2 separate regions of the Homo sapiens genome follow, and region 1 is linked to region 2. Evidence: fine-mapped expression QTL. A gene starts in region 2. The other region holds a variant in brackets. All regions are shown on one strand. Distances are between the middles of the regions. Region 1 overlaps ARID3A (AT-rich interaction domain 3A). Region 2 holds the start of ARID3A (AT-rich interaction domain 3A).

The links. PIP is the estimated chance that this variant, and not a neighbour inherited with it, causes the effect.
Region 1: its variant is fine-mapped to the expression of ARID3A in fibroblasts (GTEx, PIP above 0.99).

What each region holds. Positions count from the first base shown.
Region 1 is chr19:972,395-977,721 of GRCh38, reverse strand. It overlaps ARID3A (AT-rich interaction domain 3A), which reads right to left. Exons shown (of 9, transcript NM_005224.3): 9 at 1,783-5,327. Among named protein-coding and RNA genes, the nearest start is that of WDR18, 9.3 kb to the left of the region's middle. The variant G/A (reference allele first, on the strand shown) is at 3,022.
Region 2 is chr19:923,812-929,174 of GRCh38, reverse strand. It overlaps ARID3A (AT-rich interaction domain 3A), which reads right to left and starts at 3,140. Exons shown (of 9, transcript NM_005224.3): 1 at 3,116-3,140. RefSeq lists silencers at 2,171-2,363, 2,351-2,590, 3,011-3,080, 3,171-4,100, 4,191-4,280 and an enhancer at 2,206-2,966.

The sequences.
Region 1 (5,327 bases), 49 kb before region 2:
CTGCAAACTGGCTGTCCAGGGGCCAAATCTGGCCCTTGGTCTTGTTTCCTAGGACCCGAATGGTGTTGTAAGGGAAAAGGTGAAAATGTGGCCAGCACTGGAAAAGTTCCCTCCCCCAGCCACCAGGACGCCCCTGAACCCCAGAGGCCTCAGCTCCAGGCGGCTTCACCAGTGGGCTGGTTCCTGGGCTCGCCTAGGAGGTGAAGGAGGGCAAACTTATGGGGGGCTCGGGAACAGGGTGTCCCGCTCGGCACAAGGGCCTCCATCTGGGCCGCACAGAGGGCGGAGGAGCGGGGAGCCCCGTGCCTCCCACCCGAGGGGCCGCACCCTCCTGTCATGGGCAGGCGGGGACTGTGTGTCGGCTGCAGAGGATGGAAAGGAGTCTGTCAGAGCAAAGGGGGAGAGGGCTGTTCCCGGCGGTGGAACAGCTGTGTGAAGGCCCTGAGGCCGGACCGGGCCACTTGCCCTGGGAGCTCCGGTCGGATAACGCCAGGGGCGCCCGCATGCAGAGCCCTGTTGAGGCAGGAGGCGAGGGGTCAGGCTCGTGGGCAGGTGGCTGGGGGTGCGCACACTGGCCCTGCCACACCTGTCATCCCAAATCCCTAAAACGGGATTGGTGTCGGGCTCTCAGCGAGGCACAGAGGTGCCCAGAGCGGCCTCCAGGAGCTCCCCTCGGCCCTGTGGACCTTGCGGTTGGATCCTTCTCTGGGGTGGGGACGTCCTGGGCACTCAGGGTGCCGAGCAGCGTCCCTGGACTTCACCCACTCCATGTCAGGAGCTCCCCCCAGATGGGACAACCACAGATGTCCCCAGACATGGACCAGGGTCCCCTGGGGGCGGAATCACCCTGGTTAAGGCCCTCTGGGTTAGGGGATTCCATGGACCCCCTACAGACTCTGCATCCCATGATCCTCGGCCCTGCTGGGGTCCCAGGAGGCTGCACACACTGAAATCCATGCCCTGAGTAGGGAGGGAGAGAGGAGGCGAGTCCCAGGAGCTGGGTTCCCCCGGGTTTACACCGTCTGCCCTGTCAGGAGCTTATCCTGGTGTCTGCTGTGGGCAGGGAGAACTGTTTTTACCCCACCTTAAATAATGAAGGCAGAATTTCCCAACTCCTGCAGTGTGGATGCTGGGCGCCAGATTGTTCTCTGCGGTGGGGCCGTCCTGGGCACTCAGGGTGCCGAGCAGCATCCCAGGACTCCACCCACTCCACACCAGGAGCGCCCCCCCAGGCGTGACAACCACAAATGCCCCCAGACATGGACCAGGGTCCCCCTGGGGGCACAGACCCTGGCTGAGGACCCCTGCTTTTTTTTTTTTTTTTTTTTTTGATGGAGTTTCCCTCTTGTCGCCGAGGCTGGAGTGCAGTGGCGCAATCTCGGCTCACTGCAACCTCCGCCTCCTGGGTTCAAGTAATTCTCCTGCCTCAGCCTCCGGAGTAGCTGGGATTACAGGCACGCGCCACCACGCCCGGATAATTTTGTATTTTTAGTAGAGATGGGGTTTCACCATGTTGGTCAGGCTGGTCTCAAACTCCCGAACTCAGGTGATTCCGCCCTCCTAGACCTCCCAAAGTGCTGGGATAACAGGCGTGAGCCACCGCACCTGGCCAGACCCCCGCTTTTGTAGCTGTCTCTGCCGCCCGGAACCAGACCTAGAGCGATGCAGGGCAGAGGGGGATAGAGCACCCCCTTCCACTCACCCCTGGCTGTGCTGGGCAGGGGTGTAGGGTGGAGCTGGAGGTTGGGGAGACGCCAAAAGAAAAAAAACACCACAGGACACTTTTCTGTTAAAAGTCAGAAGTGTTTTGTCTCGTTTTAATATCTCATCAGCTTTACAGGGTTACAATCGTCTTAAATATTTCTGAAGTTTAAATACAATCTGCATAATAATGTTACTATAAAATGTAAACTTTCAGTGTTCTTTTAAATTTCAAAATCACACTTTTTTTTTTTTTTGGTCTTTTTGTCTTTTTTTTTTTTTTTCCTTTTAATACCTGAATGTTCTGCGAAAACTGAAATTGTTACAGGCCACCCTGCCGCGGCCAGGGCGAGACAGGCTGGGCCCAGCCAGAGGTAGAGAGTAGTTTTATGTTTTTTAAAAATTTTTTTAAGTTTTTTTTTTTTTCCTCCTATTACCTGAGTTTCAGGCGTGGTTCCCACGCCGTCTGACAAACTCCAGAGAAACTGAAATTTCACACGTCATGAATGAAAGGCTGAGTTTACATTTGCCAAGGAAAAAAATGCAAAAGCACAATTGGGGAAAAAAGGGACAAGGTGGGTAAAACATGATAAGAGAAAGGAAATTCAACTGTACAGATGCGTGACCCTTAACAACGACCCCAGCTGCCCCCCGTGCCCCGTGCCCACCCTCCCGCCTTTCTGGACAGCCACTTACGGGTCCCACGGAAGGTTCCAGAAGCCGCCTTTCTCCCAACATCTCAGAGCAGGGGGAGCCCCCGTTGGCCTTGACTGTGGGGCACCCACTCAGTACGCAGCCAGGCCCCACGGTCCCAAGTGAACTAGAACCCATCCAGGGTCCTCGTGGCTGAGGGGACTGCCCGACCCCCTCCCAGTCTGCATAAGGGGGGGTGCTGAGCTGCACCCCAGAAAGCCACACCGAATTTAAACCCCCACCGACAGGCGGTGGCAGGAGATGGGCACGGCTGGGGTTGAACGGGGCCACCTGAGGCAGGGAGGAGCCTCTGCAGACACGGCTTCCTGCCGAGTATCCAGGACCGGGCCCCATAGACCCTCTGCAACCGCCTCCCATTTCCACGGCCAGCATGGCCACTGCCTTCAGCGACTTCCTTCTCCTGGGCCGGGACCCAGCCTCGCGCCCACCCCCCACCCACCCCGCCTGTCCCTACAATCATCGGAGTTAACAGCAGGCTCAAGTCCTCTGAGTTAGAATCCAGGTCCACCCACCGCCGGGAGGCCGGATCGCCCACAGACACGACACGCAGGATTCCCGACACACACACGCAGCCCGAGGGAGACGACCCAGCCCTCGACCCTGCAC[G/A]GCCCCTCCCCAGGCTCCGAGGTGGGCAGGTGCACGGGGGCCCCAGGGGTCCAGGGCCGCCAGATGCAGCAGGCAGCCAGGCCCCAGTGGCTGCTGCAGACCCTGGTGCACGGGAGGCGGGGGAGAGGCACCCCAGGGGCTCAGATTTTGGCATCAAAAGTCAGACCTGAGGTAGACAGAGATAGGCAGCAGGCGCTTCCCCCGGCGCGGGGCCCAGGCGTGGGACGGGGGTCCCGGGAGAGGAGCCCTGGAGGCCGGGGGACAGACACGGACAGAGTCCAGGTGGTTCTGCGAGTGGGGCCCGATTGTGTCTGGAGGCAAACAGACACCCCCTTCCCGGGGTGATTGTGCTGCTACGGTGCTGGCCCCAGGAAGGGACAAGGAAAACCTAGACGCCCACCACCCCCTCCTGGAAAGGGGGTGTGTGTCCACGGCCCTGAGATCCGAGAAGGAAGTGGGGGTCCCCTCCCCAAAGACACAGGAAAGTGACAGTCCCCTCCCACAGCCCGACGGGAAAGTGAACCTAGACTCAGGGGCTCAGAAGCCCCCCAGCCCCCTCCCCAGGGGTCTCCAAGGCAATGGGGAGGTGGTTGGGAGTGGGGGGAGCTGGGGAGTCCCCTTCCTCACCAAGCCCCCATGCCGGTGGCCTAACAGGGCTCCCAGGGCCCAATTAGAGACCCAGGCTTACCCTGGGAATAGCTGAGTTAATCCCCACTGCACCCCAAGAGAAATGAAAGCCCAGAGCTCCCGTGTAGGACACGACAGCCCCGCCCAACACCACGCGGGTCCAACGAAGTCCCCAGACCCTGCTGGGCATTTCAGACCCAGCCTTTCTGCTCCAGCAGCTCCAGCCAAAATAACCCCCCAGCTCAGCTGCGGTGACCCCACTTTCTCCAAGCCAGGGGGAGGGGTACTGACCCACAGGGTGGTGGGGGGCAGCCTCCCTTCTCGGCCTCGATTTAGTCACCGCAGAACTCGGGGAGCTCGCAGCCCCAGCACAAAAGGGGTTGGGAGAAGAGGAAGGGACAGAGCGAGGAGAATGTTGGGGTGTGGGGGGTGTTCAGGATGCCGGGGCCCTGAAATCCTCACCCTGAGTGAGGTCCGGCTTCACCCCCACTCCCCAGTATTGATAGTCCTCAAAAGCAGCCCTTTCGGGCAAGAGAAGAATCCCAATGAGACGCCACATTCATCCCTGAGACAGGAGCCTGGGGGCTTCGACAAGAACCACCCCCGCCCCCCAGGCCCTTTTTCCAGCACTTGCTACTTTTTAGATAAGATTTCCAGACCGGGCCAGCGTGGCGGCTCATGCCTGTAATCCCAGCACTTTGGGAGGCCAAGGCGGGCAGATCACCTGAGGTCAGGAGTTCGAGATCAGCCTGACCAACATGGCAAAACCCCCATCTCTACTAAAAATACAAAAATTAACTGGGCGTGGTGGCGGGCGCCTGTAATCCCAGCTACTCCGGAGGCTGAGGCAGGAGAATCGCTTGCACCTGGGAGGTGCAGGTTGCAGTGAGCCAAGATCGCACCATTGCACTCACTCCAGCCTGGGCGACAAGAGCAAAACTCCGTCTCAAAAAAAAAAAAAAAAAAAAATTTCCAGGCCCCTGACTCGAGAGCCCAGCAGACAAGCACGGCACAAGCAAAAGCATCGTGGAATATCACAGTCAGCAATTCACTGTCAGGGGCCCCTGGCCGGTGGGACCCCAGCATGCACCCTCTGCCCCAGCCCGGCCCATAGCACCTGAGTTCATTGGCTCCGCGGCTCTAGCCCCAGGGATCCGATGTGCTGGGCTCACAGCTGCCCAACGCACCCCCAGAAATGGACAAAGGGACCCAAATTGGTCATGGGAAAAATAAAAAGGTGAGTTTTTTTTTTTTTTTTTTTTTTTTTTTTTTGCTTTTTTTTCTTGCTTTTTCAAGACCAGTTTCCCTGAAGGAACACAAATATATAGCTATATAGATATATAGATATCCTTTTCCTAAGGTTTGATCCCCCCAAGAATAAAATAGAATATTTACACAACAAAACCCCCGAAACCTCTTAAAAACCCTACAGAGAAAAAAAAATTTCCCAAAGCAACAAGAAAAAAACAAAAATTCAGTGATCTTGGTTCAGGGGTTTCACTGGACACGAGAAGCTGGGAGTGGTGAGTGTGTGGTGAATAGAAAATAAAAGAGAACTAAAGCAGACAAAAATGAAAACACACAGTGCAGGGATGTATGAGGTAAACAGGATCGGCCCACACTGCTGTGGGGCCAAACCAGACACCAGAGCCTTCGGTCCATCAGGGCTGCCTGAACGC
Region 2 (5,363 bases):
CTCATGTCCATCTCATGCAGGATGCAGACCTGGAGGCCTTCTTGGAGGCAGAGGCGCAGGCTCTTCGCATACAGCCTACTGTGGGCCTGGGTAGCAAGGTCGCCCCGCACGGGGCCACAGAGAAACACGCTGTGGCCAGACTGTCTGCCCCAGGAGATCTTGGATTATTGCTTCACAAGCAGGGTGGGGGAATGGGCGTTCCTGGCCTGTGATTGGCCAGCGGGCTCCGGGCCCCAGTCAGGTGGGTTCTAAGTTCCAGTCGCTGCCTGAGTCCCTGTTGGAGCGGCCCAGCCTGGCCTCCAGGTATCTAGGTATCCTCCCATCTCAGGCCAGACTGGAGATTGAGCGCCTGTTGTATACGGGCCCTGGGCTAACCCTCCCCCCATCACACAACTCAACAGCAACGCCCAAGCCACAACTTCTCTGGACCTCAGGTTCCCTACCTGCAAAACAGTGTGGGTAACAGTACCCCCCCAACCCATGGCACTCAAGGAGGGATGAATCGAGTTCAGGAGGTTAAGGTGGGCACCAACAGGTGTCAGAGAAGGGGGCACCAGGGCGGTCCCATTTCATGGTTGAGGACAACTGAGGCTCAGGGATCCTCTGCTTGGAGACATGGCGGTGGGATTTGAACCCAGGTCTGGGTGACCACAGAGCCTCCCACGCAGACCCCACAATCTCTGCAGGGCAACAGGGGTCTGGAGTTTCCCGGTCCTCTGGGATCCCGAGTGGGCCAGATGTCTCGGACGGCAACACACTCACCCAGCCTAGAGTGCCTTCCACCCAGGGCCAGTCCTAATGGCCTGGGTGAAGAACAGAGACTCCTGGGGCCTGGGTCCCACCCGAGCCACCCCCTAGCCCAGGCCACACCTCCACCCGCCCAGGCCGCCAATAAAACAGGCCGGGCAGAACCCAACAGGCCTGGAGTGACACCCCAGAGGGAAGGCACATCATGGGGACAGCGGAGGGGGCAAAGCTCCACCCTCCCGAGAGGCAGCTGGGCCCAGGAGGCCACCCCCAACCCTTACCCTGGCAAAGGAGCCCCCAAGACTCATACACAGCTCCTGGGCAGACAAGGCCTGGAGAGACGAGGAGGCAGGGACCCCTGGGACTCAGATCCCTCCTGTGACCCGACCCCACCCAGGTCAGTGTTGCACAGCAGACACCCCCAAGCCTCCCCAGTCACCGGACAAGAGAGTCCTGTGGCCCCTCTGCCCTAGACACCCTTTACCCAGACCCCTGAGTCTTTCGGCCCCATGGGTGAAAAGGCAGTGGGGGGCAGGTGGGTGGCCCCTGGGAGAAAGCGAGGAGGGCATGTTCCAAAATAGCCTCTGTTCCATCTGTTGTGGGGACAGAGGTCCCAGGTCACAAAGACCTCAGGGCCATAGCGCTGGGTTGTGACCAGGAGAGCCTGGCGGTCCGGAGGCCACCAGGGCGGCACCCAGCCCCCCATCCCCAGGCTGGAGGTCACCCCCCACCCACCCAACCCAAGAAAGTGCTGAGGGGGCATTTCTGACTCAGGGTCTGGTCGGGTCTGTCGCCCCTCCCCCACCTGGGACAACTTCAAGACAAGGCCCCCCCCACGGAAGAGCTCCAAGCAAAGCCCCCCCTCTTTGGGGGCACAGAAGGAAGAGGCCAAAGGAAGCCACTCCCCCCACCAGCCCGCTCCGAGCCCTGCTGGGTTTAATGACCCTTCCGGGTCGCCGGGTGGGGGAGGGGAGCAGGACAGACCTCCACGTTGGGGCCGGTGGAGGGGGCAGGTGGGGATCCCAGATTCCCCCCTAGGTCAGGGCTGGGTGCCCCCCCATCGCCGCCATAACCCTAAACTAGCTACGCCCACCCCCTTCAGACCCCTCCCCCCAAGAGCCCTTTGTCCTCGACCCCCACCCCCATTTTATGACAGCCCCAAGGGAGAGGCTGGGACGGGGCGCTGGGTGGTCGTTGGACCAGGCAGGGGTGGGGGGCGGAGGGATCCTGGGCCACACCCTCCTCCCCCCAGGCCTCCGGAGAGAGGTCACCCGCTCGGCGCGGGCCTTGCAAAACATGGTTATTTAAAGAGTTGTGCAAGGCCCCGGGCCCGCGGGTGGCGAAAGGGGCCCCTCACTCCACGAAGGGAAGAGGAGGGGGAGGGGCGGGGCAGAAAGCTGGGGAGGGGGCTAAGAAAGTCCTGGGTTGGGGGGGCCTGGAGGAAGTGAGAAAAAAACTCAAGAAGGAGAAGAAATAAGAAGACAGAAACCCTGGTCCGGATTTCAAAGGCTTCTTGGAAAGCGGCCGATTTGCATGGGGGGGGGAACCCCTCCAGCCCGAGCGCCTAAAAACGGAAGATAATTGAACCCGCCGCCCGGGGCCGGCGCCGAGCGTTGGAGTTGACAAACGCGCGCTCCCAGCGCTTCCTGCGCCCGCTTTTGTGTCTGGGGGGCCCTGAAACGGGTCAGGGGGCTCTTCCTGGGTATCCCCGCCGAGGAACCGGGCGCCCGGGCCCAACCCACCCCGGCGCCCGGGGGCCGCGGTGTCTCCCCCGGGGGCCCCTCTCTGCGCTGGGGCGGACACTTTATAAATAAACCAGCCCGGCTGGGGAGGCTCGCCGGGAACTACCCTCCCTCCTCTCTGGGCTCCCGAATAAATCCCTGATTTCGGGGAGAAAGAATAAAAATGAAATAAAATATCGGGGTGCAGCCCCCCGCGCGCGCGCAGAGACCATTTCCTTCCGCTGGGGAGGGGGGGGCGCGCACTCGCGACCCCCGATCGCCCCTGCTCGCCCCTGAGCGATTGATCCAGTGGGGAGTGAAGTCTCCAAGCGGGGTGCAGAGAAAACTCCCCGAACCCCAGCCCGCCAGGGCCGCCTTCCCAGTCCGGGACCCCCACCAACATCTCCGCCCAACTTTGGGGACCCCCTTCTTTGGCTTCCAGGACGCACTGCGCCCACCCCGGCACCGGAACCCGCGCTGGGAACGGCCAGCGCGCTCCCCAGCCTTACCGCGCAGGGCGGCTCGTAGTGGGGCGCGCGCCCCGCGCCTGGGGTCGGCCTGCCCGGGCCCGCCTGGCTTCCAGCCGCCGGTGCGCGCCGCTGGCTCCCGGCCCCCGACCCACGGGGCTGTGCCGCGCGCCGACTCACCGAGCCGCCAGCCGCGTCCGCGTCTACACCCCTCCGCCCGATTGGTAAGAGGCGCCCCGCGCGCGGCCGGCCCCCGCCCCGCCCCTCCCCCACCCCCAGACAAATCACCAGGGGACGAGTCGCTCTCGGATGCAAATACCTGGCCGGTGATTCAGCGCCGCGGCCCGGGCGCGGGAGGGCCTCGCCAGGGCTCCCCACTTTTCCCCGCACGCCCCCTCGCCCCCCTCCCGCGGTCTGACGACGCGCAACCAGCCCGGGGGCGCTGGGGAGCCGGGCAGAGTGGACGGAAATTTTCAGGTCGCGGCCCCTTTAAAGGATAATAAATAATAAACGGGAAGGGGAACAGCGCCGCGGGAGGCCCCGCCCCCGGCCTAGGGACGGTGGGCAAAGTGCGCGACGCGGCCCCAAGCGCAGAGGGTGCCGGGGGCAGGGGCTGGGGCGGGAGCGCCCCGGGGGAAGAAGAGGGGACTGACTGGGGCTCCGCCTGGGCGGGCTGGCCGGAGGCATCGGAGCCAGATCCGGGACCAAGTCTCTTCCCTTCTTACGGAGCACCTACGCTGGGCCTCGTGGACTCGGAGTTTCACCTTCGCCCCTTAGACGGAGAGACCCTGAGAGAGTGACTTCACTCTCCGGAGCCGCCGTTTCCAAGTCTGAGAAATGGGCTTGAAAGACCCGGTGCAGAGCTGGGCGGGCGGCGTCGGAGGGAGGGAACCAGGGTCCCGCCGGCCTCCCTCTGGGGAGGGACGGGCTGCAGACGGGGGCTCGGCGCGGGCGTGGGGAGGTGCGCGCTGGGACCCGGAGCCCCTTTGTGAAACCAGGACGACCCTGCCCGGCCCGGCTGTCACCAGCGTCGGGAGCTCGGCTGCCCACCACCCCCCCGTGAAGGTGGTGATGACTTACACGGTCTGAGCGGTCGCTTGCCCAACCACGTGCCCCGCGCCTCCCTCCAGGGAGGTCCCTGCACGTCTCCAGCCCTCACTCCTCTCTGTAGTTGGCAACCTTCTTGTCGCCACTGCGCAGAGCAGGAAACTGAGGCACCGAGCGGGGTGCAAGGAAGGCGGTCGGGAGGGGGACGCGTGCTCTGCAGGGAGCTGTGTGCGCGGGAAGCGACCCCAGGGGGCTAAGCGCAGAGGCCCAGGCTCCAGCCCGGACGTGAGCCCCAGGGGAGCCTGGAGGGCGGGCAGGGGCCACCCCGGGGGACCCTCACTTGTGGAGGGTCTCTGGCGGGCTCGGGTCCCCGGTCCTGAGTGTTGGGGGCGGGGTTGTAGTCGTCTCCCTCCCCTTTCCCTAGACTAGCACACGGCATTGCAACTTTCTCTCTGTCCTTCCACCTAGTTGCACCTCCTCCCTCCACAAAACTGCAACCGGGGCCGGCGCGGTGGCTCACGCCTGTCATCTTAACACCTTGGGAGGCGGAGGTGGGCGGATCATCAGAGGTCAGGAGTTCGAGACCAGCCTGGCCAACAAGGTGAAACCCCATCTGTACTAAAAATACAGAAATCAGCCGGGCATGGTGGCGCGCGCCTGTAGTCCCAGCTACTTGGGAGGCTGAGGTAGGAGAATCGCTTGAATCCGGGAGGTGGAAGTCGCAGTGAGCCGAGATCGCGCCACTGCACTCCAGCCTGGGTGACACAGTGAGACTCCACCTCAAAAACAAAACAAAACAAAAAACTGCCGGCAGGAGAGCTGCCCCCGACAACAAGGCCTGAATCCAGCCTTCCAGCCCCAGGGCCACGTGTAACCTAATGGCGGCAGGTGTCTGAGAGGCCTCCACCATAAGGCTATATTAAACACCAAACCCAGCTGCCACCCCTATCTCCGATGGAGAGGCCTGAGACACCTGCCCCAGGTTGGGGGTGCTTTGGAGAGACGCTCCCTGCAGCGGGATAAAGGGGTGTGGGAGTACCCCCTTCTCGGGCCAGGACCCAGCTCAGGTCTGAAGGTGCAGGAAGTCCCTCCCACCTACGATGGAGCACCTGGAGGCCAGCAGACCCGAAAGGCACCTGGAGGGCAGGTGCATGGGCCTGTCTGTGCCTCAGTTTATCCCTCTATAAAATGGGCCAATGTTAATTCAACCCTTTCACCATCCTGTTCTGGATTAGGCTGCCCTTTGTTCAAAGGGAAGGGCACAGGGTGGGGGCATAATTACCCCCAGGGCAGGAAGGGTAGAGCCCCTACCCGTTTCCCAGGAGGAAGCTGTGATCCGGGTAGCTGGCTGCAGCTTCCCCCAAAGGGGCCGCGCAGGGGG